2 separate regions of the Homo sapiens genome follow, and region 1 is linked to region 2. Evidence: fine-mapped expression QTL. Tissue or cell type: amygdala. Region 2 holds a variant in brackets; the other region holds the start of a gene. All regions are shown on one strand. Distances are from middle to middle.

Region 1 (5,113 bases), 450 kb before region 2:
TGCATTCAGGCCTATGTATCTCCAAAGCCCACTCTCTTAACTATGACATCACATTGTCTTGCATTTGACTGGTGCTTGGAGCTTTGCCAAAACACTTCATATACACCTTCTCATTTGCTCCCCACCCAGGGAGTGTTTATGTGTTTTGGCTAAGATTATATATCGAAGTTAGTGACAGGGCTGAGTCAGCTGCCTGCCTTCATGATACTCACTGCCTCCCTGCACTGAGAGGCCCTCAGCCCTAGGGTTAGCTGCCCCTCCTGGTCCTGAGGTCTGTTCGAGGCAATGGTTGCATGGACTAAGTTCATGCTCATATTTCCTGTCCCCACTTCTTCCAGCTGAACTTGGGCAAATATGTTTCTGACCTCACAGGGCACCTGACACACATCAGGGCCTCCCCTTCTCTGCCCTGAGTTCTTCCATGCTGCTACAGGTAGGAGTCAGCTGTTCCACCCACTGTAGGACTGTGGGCAGCATTACTGAGGTGAGGTCATCTTGAGCAGCCCAGTCTCCTGCACACTTCCCTCTTTCTTTTGAGGGTCTTGTCCTGTTCTCTGCCCTGGTGCCCCTGGAAGCAACTTTCTCTGATTACCTCTGGGTTCCTAAAGTGCATGGCACCATTAAGGAACTGGAGCTAGGGAAATGCCTGCAATGCTACTGGCTCCTGCTAGGCAATTGGAATCAAAGCATATTTCTTTCTTTCTTTCTTTCTTTTTTTTTTTTTTTTTTTTTTTGAGACAGAGTTTTGCTCTTATTGCCCAGGCTGGAATGCAATGGTGCGATCTCAGCTCACTGCAACCTCTGCTTCCCAGGTTCAAACAATTCTCCTGCCTCAGCCTCCCAAGTAGCTGGAATTACAGGCGCCTGCCACCATGCCCGGCTAACTTTTTGTATTTTTTGTGGAGATGGGGTTTTGCCATGTTGGCCAGGCTGGTCTCGAACTCCTGATCTCAGGTGATGCACCAGCCTCAGCCTCCCAAAGTGCTGGGATTACAGGCATGAGCCACCACATGTGGCCGGAACCAAAGCATATTTCAAACCCCTCACCTGACCTGGTTTTCATCATCACATGAATTTCCCTGTCTCATCCTTCTTAACCTTTCCTTTGATGGGAAGGGAGACAGCTCATCTGTCTGGAGCGGAGAATAGGGCCTGTGTGGTGCACACACATCTCTGGTAGAAGGCGCAAAAGTCCTCGAGGCTCTTTGGTGTGTCCAGAACTATGAACCTCACCCAGTGCCTGTAAATTGTGTGTGTGGGCCTGGGGGCGAGCTCAGAGCACAGAGTTAACATCCTTTCTGAGAGTGCTGCAATGGGTTGTCGGCTGCTAGAAGGGGTCTGCTGTAAGCTTTGTGGGCAAACTGACCACCCTCCACCCCCATACACAGAAGAGCCCCATCCTACCCTCTGCAGACGTCTGGGTCTGCGATGATTGGCCCTGGATGCAAGTAAAAGCTGTTTCTCCTTTTTGTCAGCCTGGGAATCTGAACAACTGAGGAAATAGGGAAGTCGGTGACAGTCACAGTCATGAACACCCAGCAGATTCCATTTCCCCACAGCAGGAGGCAGATCCCTTCCCACCCCCAAAAGCCCCCAGGCTCTGGAGGGAATTCAACCAAGCAGGGCTCAGACCGACCTCCACCAGCGAGGCTTCTCCTTGCTGTCCCCTTCTGCTCAGGCGCAACGTGGCAGGGCAGGAGGAAACCTCTCTGCAAGAGTTGCCGTACCAGAGCACATGGGGTGGCCCGATCTGGGGAGACGGGGCACAGAAGGAATGCAGGGCATGGGTGGGTGAGGGGAAGAGGGTGTGGAGCCCTGGCTCTGGCTTGTCCCCCTCTCACCCCTCCAAGTTCCAGAGGTCTGGGCTCCTCATTCATCTCGTAAGCGCCAAGGTGGAGGGGGGTCCTACCGAGGGAGGAGCTACAGGCCACCGCGACCAGCAGAGAGCGAAGGCAGGAGGGACCAGCCTGGCCCAGCCCCTTCATTTTACTGTCGGGGGTAGTGAGGAGGAAGAGGAAGAGGCGAAGGCTGGCGGAGGAGGAGGTGAGAGCGAGGACTCGGCAGAAGCGAGATCCGCCGAAGGGAAGTCCGAGCAGTCGGGGAGCTCAGGGGGGCCCTCCCGGGGAGAGGGTCGCGGGCTCCTTCTGCCGCTTACCTGTCGCGCCGAGGCAAAGCCGCAGCCGCGCCGCGGGGTGGCTCCCGGGTTTCCCCACCGGACGGCCGGGAGGGTGGGACCGGGGCGGGACCTCCCCCAGCTGCACTAACGCGCCCGCCCCGCCCCTCCCTGGCCAGGTGCAGCGGGTCCCGCCGTGTCCTCAGCCTGCTGCGGGCCCGGGAACTCCCGGCGGACCGGCAGAGGGGCGCCCCGGCTTCTCTGCGTCTCAGCCCGCCCCGGGGGTGCGGTCTTTGCGGCCAGGCTTTCAGCGCGGAAAAAGATTGGAGGGTCCTAGTCACCCCAAAGAGGACAGGCATTAGCAGAGCCGCGGGCGGCGGGTGCATGGAACCGGAATGTGCTGCGCGCCAGCCTGGAGCGCTCGGAGCCCGGAGGCCTGCCCCGGAGGGGGAAACGCGGCGGGGCGGCCATGGGCCCCGGGGTCCTGCCCCAGGTTTGCTTCTCATTTGTGCTCCATCCAACAAGAGCTCGTATTCCGTGTGCCATGAACTGTGTCAAGGGCTCCAAGTGCCAGGTATCAGGTGAATCCCAGCCCCAGCAAACTTTAAACCTACTATGATTATTCCGAATGTACCGGGGAGGCAGCTGCTCACACAGCAGAGGGTGTTTCTCAAAGTGGGATCCCCCACCAGCAGCGCCAGTCAGAATCACCTGAGAACTTATTAGAAATTTTGGCCGGGCGCGGTGGTTCATGCCTGTAATCCCAGTACTTTGGGAGGCCGAGGCGGGCGGATCACAAGGTTAGGAATTCGAGACCAGCCTGGCCAACATGGTGAAACCCCGTCTCTACTAAAAATACAAGAAATTAGCTGGGCGTAGTGGCGGGCGTCTGTAATCCCAGCTACTCGGGAGGCTGAGGCCGGAGAATCGCTTGAACTCGGGAGGGGGAGGTTGCAGTGAGCCGAGATCACGCCACTGCACTCCAGCCTGGCGACAGAGCGAGATTCCGTATCAAAAAAAAAAAAAAAGAAAAAAAGAAAAGAAAAGAAAAGAAATGGGCCCCACCGCAGACCTAAATATTCCGAAACTCGGGTTGGGCCCGGCGACTTGTGTTTTAAAAGCCCTCCGGGTGATTTTGTGCATGCTCGACCTTGAGAACCCTGAACAATTAGTGGCAGGGCTGGAATGAGAATCCTGGTAAACCCGCCTCCTAAGCCGGTGTTCGGAATTACCCCGCCAGGGCCCGTGCTGCTCAGTGGTCCTCTCCGGCGCTGCCTCGTGTGCTGCAATCTTTTGGGGCCTTAGCAACAGAGAAGGAGCGCGCATGACTCCAAATAGCCAATAATTTGAAAACTTTCTATGGTAGAAACTTCTACCACTAGTTCAGTTTCTCTTTTGTTTTGATATTTAAATAAATTTGTCTTTCTTTCTTTCTGTTTTCTTCCTCTTTCTGCTGCCCCGCCTCCCTCCTTTTTTCTTTTTTCTTTCTTTCTTACTCTCTCTGTCTCTCCTTTCTCTCTCTCTCTTTCCTTCTTTCTCTTTCTTTCCTTCTTTTTCTCTTTCTTTCTCTCTTTCTTTTCTTTTCTTGCTCTACTGCCCAGGCTGGAGTGCAGTGGAGCTATCACGGCTCACTGCAGCCTTGACCTCCGGGTCTCAAGCTGTTCTCCTGCTTCAGCCTCCACAGATGCATGCCACCATGCCCAGCTAACTTTTTTTTGTAGAGAGGGAGTTTCGCCATGTTGCCCAGGTTGGTTTCAAACTCCTGGGCTCAAGCCATCCTGTTGCCTCGGCCTCGCAAAGTGATGGGATTAGAGGCATGAGCCACCGAGTCCAGCCATGAATTTGTATTTCTAAGACCCTAAGACCTGGGAGCAGGAGCATGAGTGAGTAGATCCTAGCAAGAAGTTCTGACACGCACTGGGAAAGGCAGGGAAGCCAGCCGGGTGTTAACAGGTGAATGAAGAAAGTAATCTTTTTTTCTAACCTGAGACTCCAAGGTAGGTTTGATCTATTCAGAAGGTGAGATGTTCTTTGATGGAGTCAGGAGAGAAGGCCAGCAGAGTGTGGAGAAGAAGAGTTGCCCAGCTACACATGATCAGAGTGACGTGAAGGATGGACATTCTCCCAGGAGTAGAAAGGGGTTCATCTGCTCACTCTTGGCATGATGCCCGACTCCCCTAACTCTAAGCAGCCTTCCACCAACTCCCTTCCTTTCACATTCCAGGCCGTGGGCTTTAAGCTCCTAGAGAGACTTTCTACAGAGCTTCCTTGAGCATCCCTTAGCCCATCTGTAGACCCTCTGGACTCTGATTCCACCTCACTGCCCCAGCTGCTTCTATTCTTGTCATGTGCCTTACTTGACAGCTGTCTTTCTCAGAATGAGGGCACTTCCTGTGGAAGATTGTGGGATGCTGCCCCTCATGTCTCTCTTCTTGGGGCTGAACACTCCCTGTACAGGTCGGACCTACCGTCTTTGCTCTGTCCTTCCTCCACCTCTGCCCTTTGACCCTCAGGGGTTGTGTGATCCTGACGTGAGTCTTGCACCTTAGTCAGGACCCAACCTAACCTGAGGTGAATGGCCCCTATTCCTTCCCAGGACAGGGTCATGGCCATTACCCCCAGCCTGGTGCTCCTGAGAGGGCCGGGCCCAGCTTCCCAAGAAGTAGCAGCAGTCTGCGTTGTGTGTTTCGCATTCCGGAAGCAAATTACTCATCTGATTTTACTTCAGCTGACGCTGATTTTAAATGTGACTTGGAATCCTCAGAATAATTAGCTGCCTAATTTGGAGGTTCATGAGTCCGCAGGATGTGTGACCCACCCCTAATGTGTCATGCACTGAGCTGTTCTCTCCTAACAGGAAGGACGGTGCAGGCTTCCTCTCCACCAAGCCAGGAAGGTTTGCAGATGAGCCACCACAGAATAGTGACTGCAATTTCTGCCTCCGCTGGTACAGGCAACTTTCGAAAAATGGTTTTTTAGGCTGGGAGTGGTGGCTCATGC
Region 2 (5,197 bases):
AGGCCACCAGCCCAAAAGGGGCAGAATTGGCACTTGCACTCAAGGACTTTGCTTCAGCCCTGAACACAGCCTCTAATCCTGTACTGTCCAATGACAGGCACTAGCCCCATGTAACTATTTAAATTTGCAGACATTAAAATTTAATAAAATAAAAATTTTACTTCCTCAGTGGTACTAGCCACATTCCATATGTTCAACAACCGTATGTGGAAGTGGCCACTGTAGTAGACATCACAGACACAGAACCTTTCCATCACCATAGAAAGTTCTATCGGACGGAGCTGCTCTATCTTGAACTTCTATGGAGTCTCGCTTCTTAAGGTCTTTAGGTAGACTTCCTGCGGATCTAGACTTCTTTTTTTTTTTTTTTTTATAGACAGAGTTTCATTCTTATCACCCAGGCTGAAGTGCAGTGGCGTGATCTCCGTTTACTGCAACCTCCACCTCCTGGGTTCAAGTGATTGATTCTCCTGCCTCAGCCTCCTGAGTAGCTGGGATTACAGGCGTGCACCACCATACCTGGCTAATTGTTGTATTTTTAGTATAGACAGGGTTTCACCATGTTGGCCATGCTGGTCTCGAACTCCTGACCTCAGGTGATCCACCCACCTCAGCCTCCCAAAGCGCTGGGATTACAGGAGTGAGCCACCGTGCCCTGCAGGCTTCTTTTCCTAGGATTCCCAGGCAGTTTTACAGCTACCCTGGACTGGAGCTTTCCCTAGAACCAGGGGAGGGAGGATGGGCTAGCTGAGTCAACTCCCTCCGCCCCAGCCCCGCCTGTCTGCCCTGCCTCAGGAGAGGAGGGACAGGCGGAGGAGGAGGAGAGGAAGGTAGGACAGGGCACTCTGTCATCTGGCCTTTGGGCTGCGCTGCCCTCCCCCATCAGCTGCTCAACACCCCTCCCCCACCCCGCCCACCATCCTCATCCTCATCCAATCCCAAGGACAGATGGGGGCCAGCAGAGAGGGAGAAACGTGACCACAGTGAAAGCACTCTCAAGTGGTAACACAGTCCGGGGGTCACAGCTGTGTCCCCCGAGGCCTGGCCAGTCTCTCATGTCCAGCCTTGATGTCTGGTCAGGCCTGGGCTAAAGTGAGTCTCTGTTGGTGGGGGGCGGATACTTCAGAATCCTAAGGGGAGATGGAGGAATCTGTTGGTGCCGGATTATCCCAGCAGACACACCCCAGTTAGAAATGCAGTCACTCTTGTGGTCACTCATCCATCCATCCATTCAACACACATTGAATAAGCCCCCACCATGTCACAGTGTAATAGGAGGATGTAGAGGTGGGCAGTGGACTTCCTAACCAGCTTGACCAGGTAGGGACATGGCTGGTGGGCTTAATCCTCGTCCCAGGCTAGATGAAGGTCCTTTGTCTCTGCCCAGTGGTCTGAGCAGGGTGGACACCCCCAGCCCCCTCCTCCCCTCACACAGGCGCACATGCCGGTGGGTGGGTGCGCAGACACACACACTCCCAGCTGCTGCCAGAAACCCCCCTCCTGTGGTCTCTCTGGCCAATCACAGCACTGAGGAGTAAGTCCCACTGTCCGGTGGCCCCCAGGGAGTGTATTAGCACATTTGAACCGCTCAACCTGCAACTGACAAAGCCTGGGGCCTTGGGAGGGGACACAGCAGGAGGGGTGGGGGCCTGTGGGGAGCTCTCCTCCCGTCTGCCTCTCAGGGGGAAGCTCAAGACTAGATTAAGCATTCTGGGGCACAGAGGAATTTGGGGGCCCCAGCTCCAGCCGTGAATAAGCGATCCATAAAATCCCAATTTACACACTCACTGATCAAACAGCCCATCTACTACCCCAGGAGGTTGGGGGTGGCTCCTGGGCCTCTCCTGCTCTCAAAGAAGGTCCGGGGGAGCTGGGAACTGGACATAGGACGCAGGCTCCCAATGTTTTCCCTACAGCCTCAGTCCCATTCCCAATCCCCATGAGGGGTATCCATGCCAAGGGCGTGGGGCCTGCCGGTACCCCCTGTGACCTGGCTGCCTTGGGATGGGCTGGGGGGCTGCCTCAGTCAGGCAGCCATCTTTGTCCACCCTCTGTGAATAACAGCTCCTTTTTTCTCTTGTGTTGCCCTGGGGCCGCCAGGCCCGACTGCAACCTCATCAGAGCTGCTAATCACTTTTCCAGCTCTCCTCTCCTCCCC[A/G]CCCCCTTCTTCCCAACAGCCCCTCCACGTTTTCTCTGGACCCTCCACCAAAAGCTGCCCTGGGATGCTCAGGCCACCTTCCTTCCACTGTCTTGTCTCACCCCAAAGCTAGGCAATATCCAGGAACACAAGGGGCTCCAGGCTGGTGCTCTGTCCCCAGCCCATCTTCTGGGAGAAAGCAGGTAGAGAGAAATAGCCTTGTTATTACCCTAGTCCCTGCCACCAAAGAAAACACAACGTGTCTCCCTCTTGCCTAGGTGTTGTTTGCTCCCCTTGGTTAGGCTGCCTGCAATTTCACCAAGAGAACACCATTCTGGTTAAGAAGGATTCTCTTTTAAACCAAATGGAACTTCTGGGAGGCTCCAGGCTGTCAGCCAGTCACACCTCCAGGAGGATTAGCAAGGCTGATTCTCCTTCTCCTTCCCACCTGCTCGAGGTGAGCTGCATGGGCCACTAGAAGTGTTCATGGAGGCCGGGGAAAGCGAGTCTTTGGGGCTGGGAATTGCCCACCACACCACACCCCACTTCTCACTACATGTGAGCTATGTTGGAGCAGGTCAGAGATGGATGTCAGCTCCTGGGCCCTGGGGGAAGAAAGGAGTAAGGGCTGCCCTGTCTGTGTGCTTCCCAGAGGCCACTGCACACTGGGCTGGGAGCTGGATCTCCATTGTCTCATTCAGTCCCCTCAGCAGGCTGCTGGGAGGATTGTGGTGTGAGCCTGTTCTACGGTGAGACATACTCCTTCCCTTCTCCCCTTTCTCCACTTCACTGGCTGCTCCAGGTACCCCACCCCAATAGAGCCTGTACCCATTAGTAACCTGGGTAAGGCAGGTGTCTGAAGGGCAACCTGAAAGACTGACCCACGGCTTGCAGGGGTCTCTGAGCCCACTCTAGCCAGCCCTTCCCCCTCCCATGACTCAGGTATTGCAGGGAGTGAGCACTGGCCTCAGAGTCAGCCTCTGAGATGTGGGACAATGTCTTGATCTGTTTCCTCCATTGTGAAATGGGGGGTGGAGAGGCAGCATCCCCCTCACAGGCTGGCCTGAGGGCAGTGAAGGAGAGGTGGAACTTTCCTGACTAGCTAGAGGGGCCACCCATGCAGGACCCAGGGCAGGCTCCAACTCGCTCCTAGAGACTGGCTAGGTGCAGTGGCCTGGGAAAGAGGTGGGGGGGCTGCTCTCCAGGCCCAGAAGGACCCAACTCATTTGACAGAGGACTCCAAAGAGAAAACATAATCCTGGAGCTGCCTGCGGGGCCCCAGAAGAGCTCTGCCTTGCAGGAATGAGTTCCCTGTCCTGCCCTGACCAGCTGACCGTCACTGAAAATACAGTCCCAAACCACAGCTTCCCAGGATGTCCTCGCCTGACCCCTGGCTGCTCTGACCTGTGTCCTGGGACATCTGTCACCAGCCTCTCCTCTGCTAATAGAGGGAGGAGCACCAGGGCCCTCCCATGACCCCCCCAGCCCACCCTCTGCCACTTAGAAACTGCCAGGCAAGTCTCATACTCCTGCTTCAAGTCCCTCCTGACAGCCCACTGTGCCCAGACGTAACTTGGTCTTGAGCCACATTCTTCACTGTCCCCGGGAATCTTAAGAGGAGAGGTAGGAATCTAGGTGAGAATCTTAGGACCCTCTGGGAGGGTCCACAGAGACCTCAGACTCAACATGCCCAAGGAAAACATCTCCACCTCCTCTCTCCCGATTCCATCTCTTCAGCTAGGCTGGAAACCTAGGAGTCCCTGTGTCTGTCTCTCCAGCCTCCACTCATCTAGCTGGCCATGAAGTCAGGTTAACACTCTCTCTAAAACAACCCACAGCTCTCATGTTCCCCACCACAGCTGGCCCCACCTCTGAATTCTGCCTCTGTTCTCTGCCTTCCTAATCCTTCTTCTGTGTGGCTGCTAGGGTGGTCTTTCTGTCTAAAACAGACTCAGCCTCCTACCAAGCACAGAGACGATGTTAACCCTTCAGCCTGGCACCAGAGGTGGATGAGTCTGTCCTTCCTTCCAGCTTCGGGCCCTTTCCAGCTCCTCCAGTCACATCAGCCCATTCTCTCTGAGGCTGTTCCTGTCTCCCTCTTTGGTGCCCCGAAGCATGTTCCAGGCACTTCTGCCCTTCCACTCCAATGCCCAATTTAGAGGTGACATCACTTGTTAACTGGGTTCCCATTCCCTCCGCTGCTCAGCCAGCCCCTGTCTGTGAGCCCTGGTACAAGTGGCTCTCTAGCCCTTTCTGCAGCTCTCTCTCTACCCTGACCTGCTCCTTCCCAAAGTCCCCTCCCTCAGAAAACATTCCCTGACACACAGTGGTAGAAAGAGCAGGGCCACTGGGAACGAGGATGACCTGGACTTTTTAATGATAGTCATGACTTTTTGTCAGCAATTACTTTTTAAAAAGATGACTTGCTTTTTCATTGAGGAACAGGGATTTGCAGTTGACTCTGCGCTTTGCCCTGTCTGAAGTCAGTTCCCCTCCCTGAGGCTCTGTTTCTAGCACACAACGCAGCCTCACACCTGTGCACTCAGTGATGGGCACTGCGGGGAGGGCGCAGGTGCTCAGTGGAGGCCGCCATGGACTGTCCTCTGTCCACTTGGGGTGGCCCTGTGATCTGGGGCTGGTGAGGTCCTTCCAGTGCCTGTCTCCTCTTGGGTCTGCATCTGGGGCTCCTCTTTGCCTGGGACTTGGCCCTGCATGGGCGAGAGATGGAGGATGAGGCCAGAGCTCTTCACCACTTTCAGCCTTAGGCCCCTTTCGCAGTCTGGAAAACCTATGACCTGTTCTCAAAAATACTTCCTCAATGCATAAAAGAAAAATACATGGGGCTACAAAGGGAATTAATAACATTGGCCAGGCACGGTGGTTCACGCCTGTAATCCCAACACTTTGGGAGGCTGAGGCAGGCTGATCACCTGAGGTCGGGAGTTCAAGACCACCCTGACCAACATGGCGAAACCCTGTCTCTACTAAAAATACAAAATTAGCTGGGTGTGGTGGCACATGCCTGTAATCCCAGCTACTTGGGAGGCTGAGGCAAGAGAA

What was found. PIP is the estimated chance that this variant, and not a neighbour inherited with it, causes the effect.
Region 1: GALNT6 starts here. The variant in region 2 is fine-mapped to the expression of GALNT6 in amygdala (GTEx, PIP 0.96).

What each region holds. Positions count from the first base shown.
Region 1 is chr12:51,389,446-51,394,558 of GRCh38, forward strand. It overlaps GALNT6 (polypeptide N-acetylgalactosaminyltransferase 6), which reads right to left and starts at 1,961. Exons shown (of 12, transcript NM_007210.4): 1 at 1,842-1,961; 2 at 1,405-1,492. It also overlaps a transcript of SLC4A8 not described here. RefSeq lists enhancers at 87-176, 1,138-1,723, 1,724-2,308, 4,352-4,441 and a silencer at 1,994-2,533.
Region 2 is chr12:51,835,451-51,840,647 of GRCh38, forward strand. All of the region lies in intron 1 of FIGNL2 (fidgetin like 2), which reads right to left. Among named protein-coding and RNA genes, the nearest start is that of FIGNL2-DT, 10 kb to the right of the region's middle. RefSeq lists an enhancer at 630-1,581. The variant A/G (reference allele first, on the strand shown) is at 2,159.